Regions from separate parts of the Homo sapiens genome. Here region 1 is linked to region 2. The links come from fine-mapping of genetic effects on gene expression. Tissue or cell type: skeletal muscle. Region 2 holds a variant in brackets; the other region holds the start of a gene. All regions are shown on one strand. Distances are from middle to middle.

Region 1 (2,892 bases), 38 kb after region 2:
GTTTCAGCTCAGCCTCGCTCAGCCATCTAAGTCAGCTCTGCCCAGAAGCAGCCCCGGCCACGGTTCCCCTCCCGCTAGGCTCGAGAGGGAGACGCGATTTCAATTTCAGAGGCCAGGAGGGAGGGGTGCGCGCAGAAGACGAAGGCAAAGGCGAGGGGGTGAGCGCCCAAGGGCAGGCTCCCAGGGGCCCCACCCAAGCCCCTCGGCACCGTCCTCGGAGGAGAAGGAACAAACCCTCCTATGGACTGGGGAGGAAAGGGCGCCTTGGGACTTTGGGAATGCAGGCGCGGGCAGGAGCTCCGGAGCCCACCGGCTGGGGCCCCACTCCCAGCCCGGTCCGGCCAGTCTGGCTTTTACAAACTAGGGCGGGCTCAGTCCCCGCTGGACCGAGCCCAGACTAGGGTCTAGCGGCGGCTCCACCCCTCACTCGCTGAGTGTGACCTTGGACAAGTCCCCAAGTCCCCAGCCTTAGTTTCCTAACCTTTTCAATGGGGGGCTCATGATTACTGACCCAGGACTCCAAGCCTCCGAGAACCCACCAAGCTCCCCCGGCCCCGCGGCGAGGGGCCCAGACGAAGGAAACGCCGCCCCAGGGGCGCGCGGGCGGAGATGGAGTGGCCCAGGCTGGGGGAGCGGGGAGCAGGGTCGCCACCGCTGCGCCGGCCCGCGACGCCTGCCCTTGCCCGCCCTGCTCCCCGCCGCCTCCCTGGGCGACTCGGGTCCCGCGCGGCGCCCGCCCAGCCCGGGGCTCCGGACCGAGGAGGGGGAGGAGGAGGAGGAGGAGGAGCCGCGCCAAGGCGGCCGGCGGGCGCACTTACGCCGGTGCTGCGGTCCAGCGTCCCGCCGCCGGCCGCCGAGAGCTTGGTGGTGTTGAGGCCCACCAGCGAGGGCAGCGTCTGGGACATCCAGTTAGTGATCATGGCCATGGTGCTCAGCACGACCCCGATCTTGAGCAGCGGCACCGACATCGCGCCTCGAGCTGCCTCCAGCGCCCGCTCCGAGCTGGCACCGGCTCCCGCGCCCAGGCGGCCTTCAGGCGGCGGGCACCGCGGCGGGCAGGGGCGCCTGGCTGTGTCCCCGCGCCCCCTCGGCCCGCCGCCGCCCGCCCGCCGCCGCCGCCGCCCCGCGCGCCCCGGCCATCGCCGCGCCTTCCCCGGGCGCCAGGGAAGGTGGCCAGGTGGCCTCTGCCCGCCGCGCCCTGCGCCTCGCGCCGCCCGCCCTGCGCCCTGCCTTGCCCGGCTGCGTCCCTCCGGGCTCCTCCGCCGCCACCGGGAAGCGCCGTCCGGCTCTGAGCGCTGCGCGGGCTGCGCGCGGGGGCCGCGGCCGGGAGGCGGGGCTCGGCCGGGCGGGACCGACGCAATCCGCCCAGGAAATGGGTGGATTTTTCCTCTCGCTCGGCTCCCCGCCGCCCCCTGGCTGCTGGCAGCGAGGTCTGCAAACTCCAGTCCGCCCAGGAGTTGGGATCAGGGTGACATGAGGAGACGGACACACCACCACCCCCAGATCATAAAATACCCGGCGGCGGCGCGGGGACTCCAGCTGGGGGCACGGCCCGCGGCCCTCCCGTCCCGGGGCTTCTCCCATCCTCACGCCGGGGCATCCCTCTCCGATCCCCGCAGAGGGTCCGCTTTGGGGCAAAGGTTGCCGGCAGAGAGACGGCGCCGTCCTGCCTACTGGAGCCCTTTTCCGCGGTGATTCGAGGGTCCCAGCCAGCCTGGGCCGTCGCCTGAAACCCAGCAGGCAGGGCAGGCTCCGAAAAGCAGCCAGACTCGCGAGGGCCTCCAGCGCCAGGGGGGCGTCGGGGCATCGGTGGAGAGCTAAAGGCGCCCCTGCGATCCCAGGGCAGCCGCGGTGCCCTAAGGCCTTGCTTGGGAGGAAGGGAGCCAACCGGCACTCCTGACACCTGCACAGCAAGGCGGGGGCTGGGGTGGTCTGCCGTGGCCCGCGGTGCGCAGTGAGGGCCCTGGGAGGGCGCACACCCGGCAGGAGCTGCATAAGGTCTGGGGCTCAGGCCTGGACCTCAGGAGCTGAAGGGACCACGCCCATGAACCTGGTGTTGGGGAGGTGGGTGTGTGGGGCGGGGACTGGGGTCTGTGGTGGAGGGGTGTGGGTTGGGGGGTGTCCTTACTGACTCAGGGGTGGCGCTCGAGTCATGGCGCCCAGGCACAGAGGCAGGGCAAGTGGCGCACGCTGCCCCTCTTCCCGGCCCTCTGCGGCGACCGCAGCAGGACTCACGCGTGTCAGTCCCACCTGAAGCGCAGGCCTGACTGGGTCAAACACGTTAATAGGGCTTTTGCATTTACAGAAGGCTTCTAATCGGAGATGAAAGCCACTTCCTCCGGGGCCTTCCATTAAGCTTTCCCAGCCATTTGGGAAGGAAAGAATCCTCCAGATCACTCACTACACTCTTCTCTGCCTGGGCGAAAATTAATCTCCCTTCCTGGATGGGATTTGAAAGACGGACGCCGGGCCGGAAGGAGCGCGCCTCCCTGGCGCCCGCCTGAGAGGAACAACGCCTTCCTGGGGCTTTTCTCTCTGTGTGCGCAGTCCTCGGCTGAAGAGACTTCAGCTGCAGCCAAGATGATCCTGGCCTGAGTGCTGGGTGTGAGACCCGCTAGTTAAATGAGCCCCTCAGATCTGCTTTTCTGATTAATGCTGTAATCTCAGGCAGCCGGGCTGGGTCGGATGCCAGGAAATTCCAACTGTTGGGGAAGGGCGCCATCTCCCAGTGTAAGCTGGGACTGCAGGCCCGGCTCACAGACTGGGCCCAGGCGGAGACACAAGTCCGGTTGGGCTGGCTTCGCCCCCCTCCTCTGGCCATGCATGTTTAACACCGATTCAAGGCCACAAGCCGTGTCTGTCCAGATCACTCACGCCGCTTCCCGCTGCGGA
Region 2 (2,892 bases):
CAGGCCGGTTGAAGGCAGGAAAGAGCAGCGCCCAGGCTCGGCAGTCCCAGGTTTGCACCCAGAGCTGCGGCTCATCAGTGGGCCTGGGCTGCTGCGTAATCTCCCCGTGTCTATTTCTGTAAGACGGAGGTCACACAGCACCCTGTGGGGTGAGGGTTTCCCTGAAAGATCCTTCCGAAGACAAGACCTCACCTTGCCTTAGAATCCTGGCAGCGTCTCTGGAGTTAGGCACTTGGTTTAGAACAACAAGAACTGTGTCCGAGAGACACAGCACCCCGGAGTCACCATGGTCTTTATTGACCCAACAACACTGGTGAAGGCAAAAGATGGTGCTCAGGTTTCCAGATGCTTCCTGGAGTAGGGCCTGACAATCACAGGGGTTAAGCATCATGGTTTATAAGCTACTCAGAGATCACTTTATAAAACAATCCAGGGACCAGGTGCAGTGGCTCACACCTGTAATCCCAGCACGTTGGGAGCCCGAGGCAGATGGATCACTTGAGGTCAGGAGTTCAAGATCATTCTGGCCAACATGGTGAAACCCTGTCTCAACTAGAAAAAAACAAAACAAAAAACAAAACAAAACACACACACACACACACACACAAAATTAGCCAGGCATGGTGGTGCTTGCCTGTAATCCCAGCTACTCAGGAGGCTGAGGCAGAATTGCTTGAACCCAAGAGGTGGAGGTTGCAGTGAGCCGGGATTGCACGACTGCACTCCAGTCTGGGCGACAGAGCAAGAGCCTGTCTCAAAAAAAATAATAATAAAAATAAAAATAATTTTAAAAATTAAGAATTAAAAAACCATATAGGAAGTGTGCAAGGTGGTTGCCTGTGAAAAATCCCCTGCTCAGGTGAGTCCATGGGTCCTTTTGCCTTCTGGACACAGAGGCCAGCACATACCCAGGGAGAGGAGGGCCCAGGGATGGACCCCAGGACAAAGGGTCCAGGGGAGCAAGTTGGGCCATTTAACAAATAGCATTGGGGCCAAGGAGCAGCCTTTGGAAGAAGATGAAACTGGTTCCACACTTCACACTATCAAAGCCAGGGCATGGACAGCCCCAGGGTAAACAGACAGACTTTGCAAGAACCAAGAGAAGCAGGGATCACGTTGGGGAAGGCGGCCCTAACTCCAACCCCGAAGCCACAAGCATCACAAGGATGATAGATAACCCTGACTACACTCAAACACACACACAGACACACACACAACACATAACCAACATCAGGAGACAAATGACAGACTAGACAATATGTGCACCTCAGACCACAGAATCACAAAGGCTGACTTTCCACACATAGAAAGAACTCCCAAAATTTGAGAAAGTAAGACCAACAACTGAATAGAAAACAATAGGCAGAAGATAGGAACTGAAAGTTCACAGAAAACAGAGTCAGTCCTCCCCGCTGCCCTGAATGATGGCTCCCTTCCACCTCACCCCCCTGAGGATGGAAACAGAGGCAAAATTACTCACTGGCCAGGCCTTATAGGAGGCTGGACCAGGAGCTGACCCAATTCCTCTGCCTCCCGGTCCCCCTTGAGCACTAGGAACTGTCTGCTGTCCCAAATCGCAGGCTCAGCTGATCTCCAAGCTTCAACTGCTGTCCTAGACCCTTCTCCATGTTGGGCTGTGCTCATCTTGTAGACTCTGGGTTGGAAGCCCAGTGGCCCGGGGAAATTGCTGGTGTCTCAGAGCCTGACTTTTTTCCATCTAGCATGGGGCATGACGCCTCTTCAACGGGGCG[G/A]TGAGGTCCAAGGGTTGCCGGGGGCGTGGCATCCAGGTATTATCTGCTCCAAGCCACCACTTCCTTTCTTTCTTCCTTCCTTCCTTCCTTCCTTTCTTTCTTTCTTTCTTTCTTTCTTTCTTTCTTTGTTTCTTTCTTTCTTTCTTCTTTCTTTCTTTCCTTTTTCTTTCTTTCCTTTTTCTTTCTTTCTTCTTTCTTTTCTTCCTTTCTCTTTCTTTCTTTCTTTCTTCCTTCCTTCCTTCCTTCCTTCCTTTCTTCCCTTCCCCTGCCCCTTCCTTCCTTCCTTCCTTCCTTCTTTCCTTCCTTCCTTCCTTCCTTCCTTCCTTCCTTCCTTCCTTCCTTCCTTCCTTCCTTCCTCTCTCTCTCTCGCTTGTTTGCTTGCTTGCTTGCTGTCTTGCCCAGGCTGGAGTGTAGTGGTGCGATCTCAGCTCACTGCAAACTTCACCTCCCGGGTTCAACCAATTCTCCTGCCTCAGCCTCCCGAGTAGCTGGGATTACAGGCATACCGCACCACGCCCGGCTAATTTTTGTATTTTTAGTACAGACCAGGTTTCACCATGTTGGTCAGGCTGGTCTCGAGCTCCTGACCTTGTGATCTGCCCGCCTCAGCCTCCCAAAGTGCTGGGATTACAGGCATGAGCCATTGTGCCTAGCCCACTTGCTGCTTTCAAAGGGAATTAGGTGAAATGTTCCAATAAAAAACATTTTCACACTCCACAGCTTTATGGACTACGACTAGATGACCTAAGGGTTTCTGGGTTGAAGAGTCCCTCGGGCTGAGACAATGGGCCCGTTTGTGCTCAGTACCTGCCCCGACGTCACCTGGCTTGCTGACTGTTGGCTGTTCCAGAGTGTTCAGCTATGGAAATAACAGTGCCTTTCATTTCTGGATCCCTTCCAAGAACAGAGCTGGGCACTGGCTGTCCACCCAGCACTTCCCAAGGATTGTTGAGACAGAGCACCTCACCCAGAGCCGCCTACCCAGAGCCAACCCCTCCTGCTCACTGGTTCAGAGAGCAGAGCCGCCCACATCTTCTGTTTCCCCCACCAAGTGCTACCTGAGCACCTGCAGCTCTGACAGGGCCAGGGGAGGATTCGATGGGGAGCTGTGGGACCAACAGTCACAGGCTTCCCTCTGGAA

The links.
Region 1: it holds the start of OLFM1, and the variant in region 2 is fine-mapped to the expression of OLFM1 in skeletal muscle (GTEx, PIP 0.92).

What each region holds. Positions count from the first base shown.
Region 1 is chr9:135,086,066-135,088,957 of GRCh38, reverse strand. OLFM1 (olfactomedin 1) reads right to left here and starts at 1,290. Exons shown (of 6, transcript NM_001282611.2): 1 at 819-1,290. The coding sequence starts at 968. RefSeq lists enhancers at 1-634, 1,269-2,129, 2,130-2,892.
Region 2 is chr9:135,123,690-135,126,581 of GRCh38, reverse strand. No RefSeq gene overlaps it. Among named protein-coding and RNA genes, the nearest start is that of OLFM1, 37 kb to the right of the region's middle. RefSeq lists an enhancer at 1-446. The variant G/A (reference allele first, on the strand shown) is at 1,752.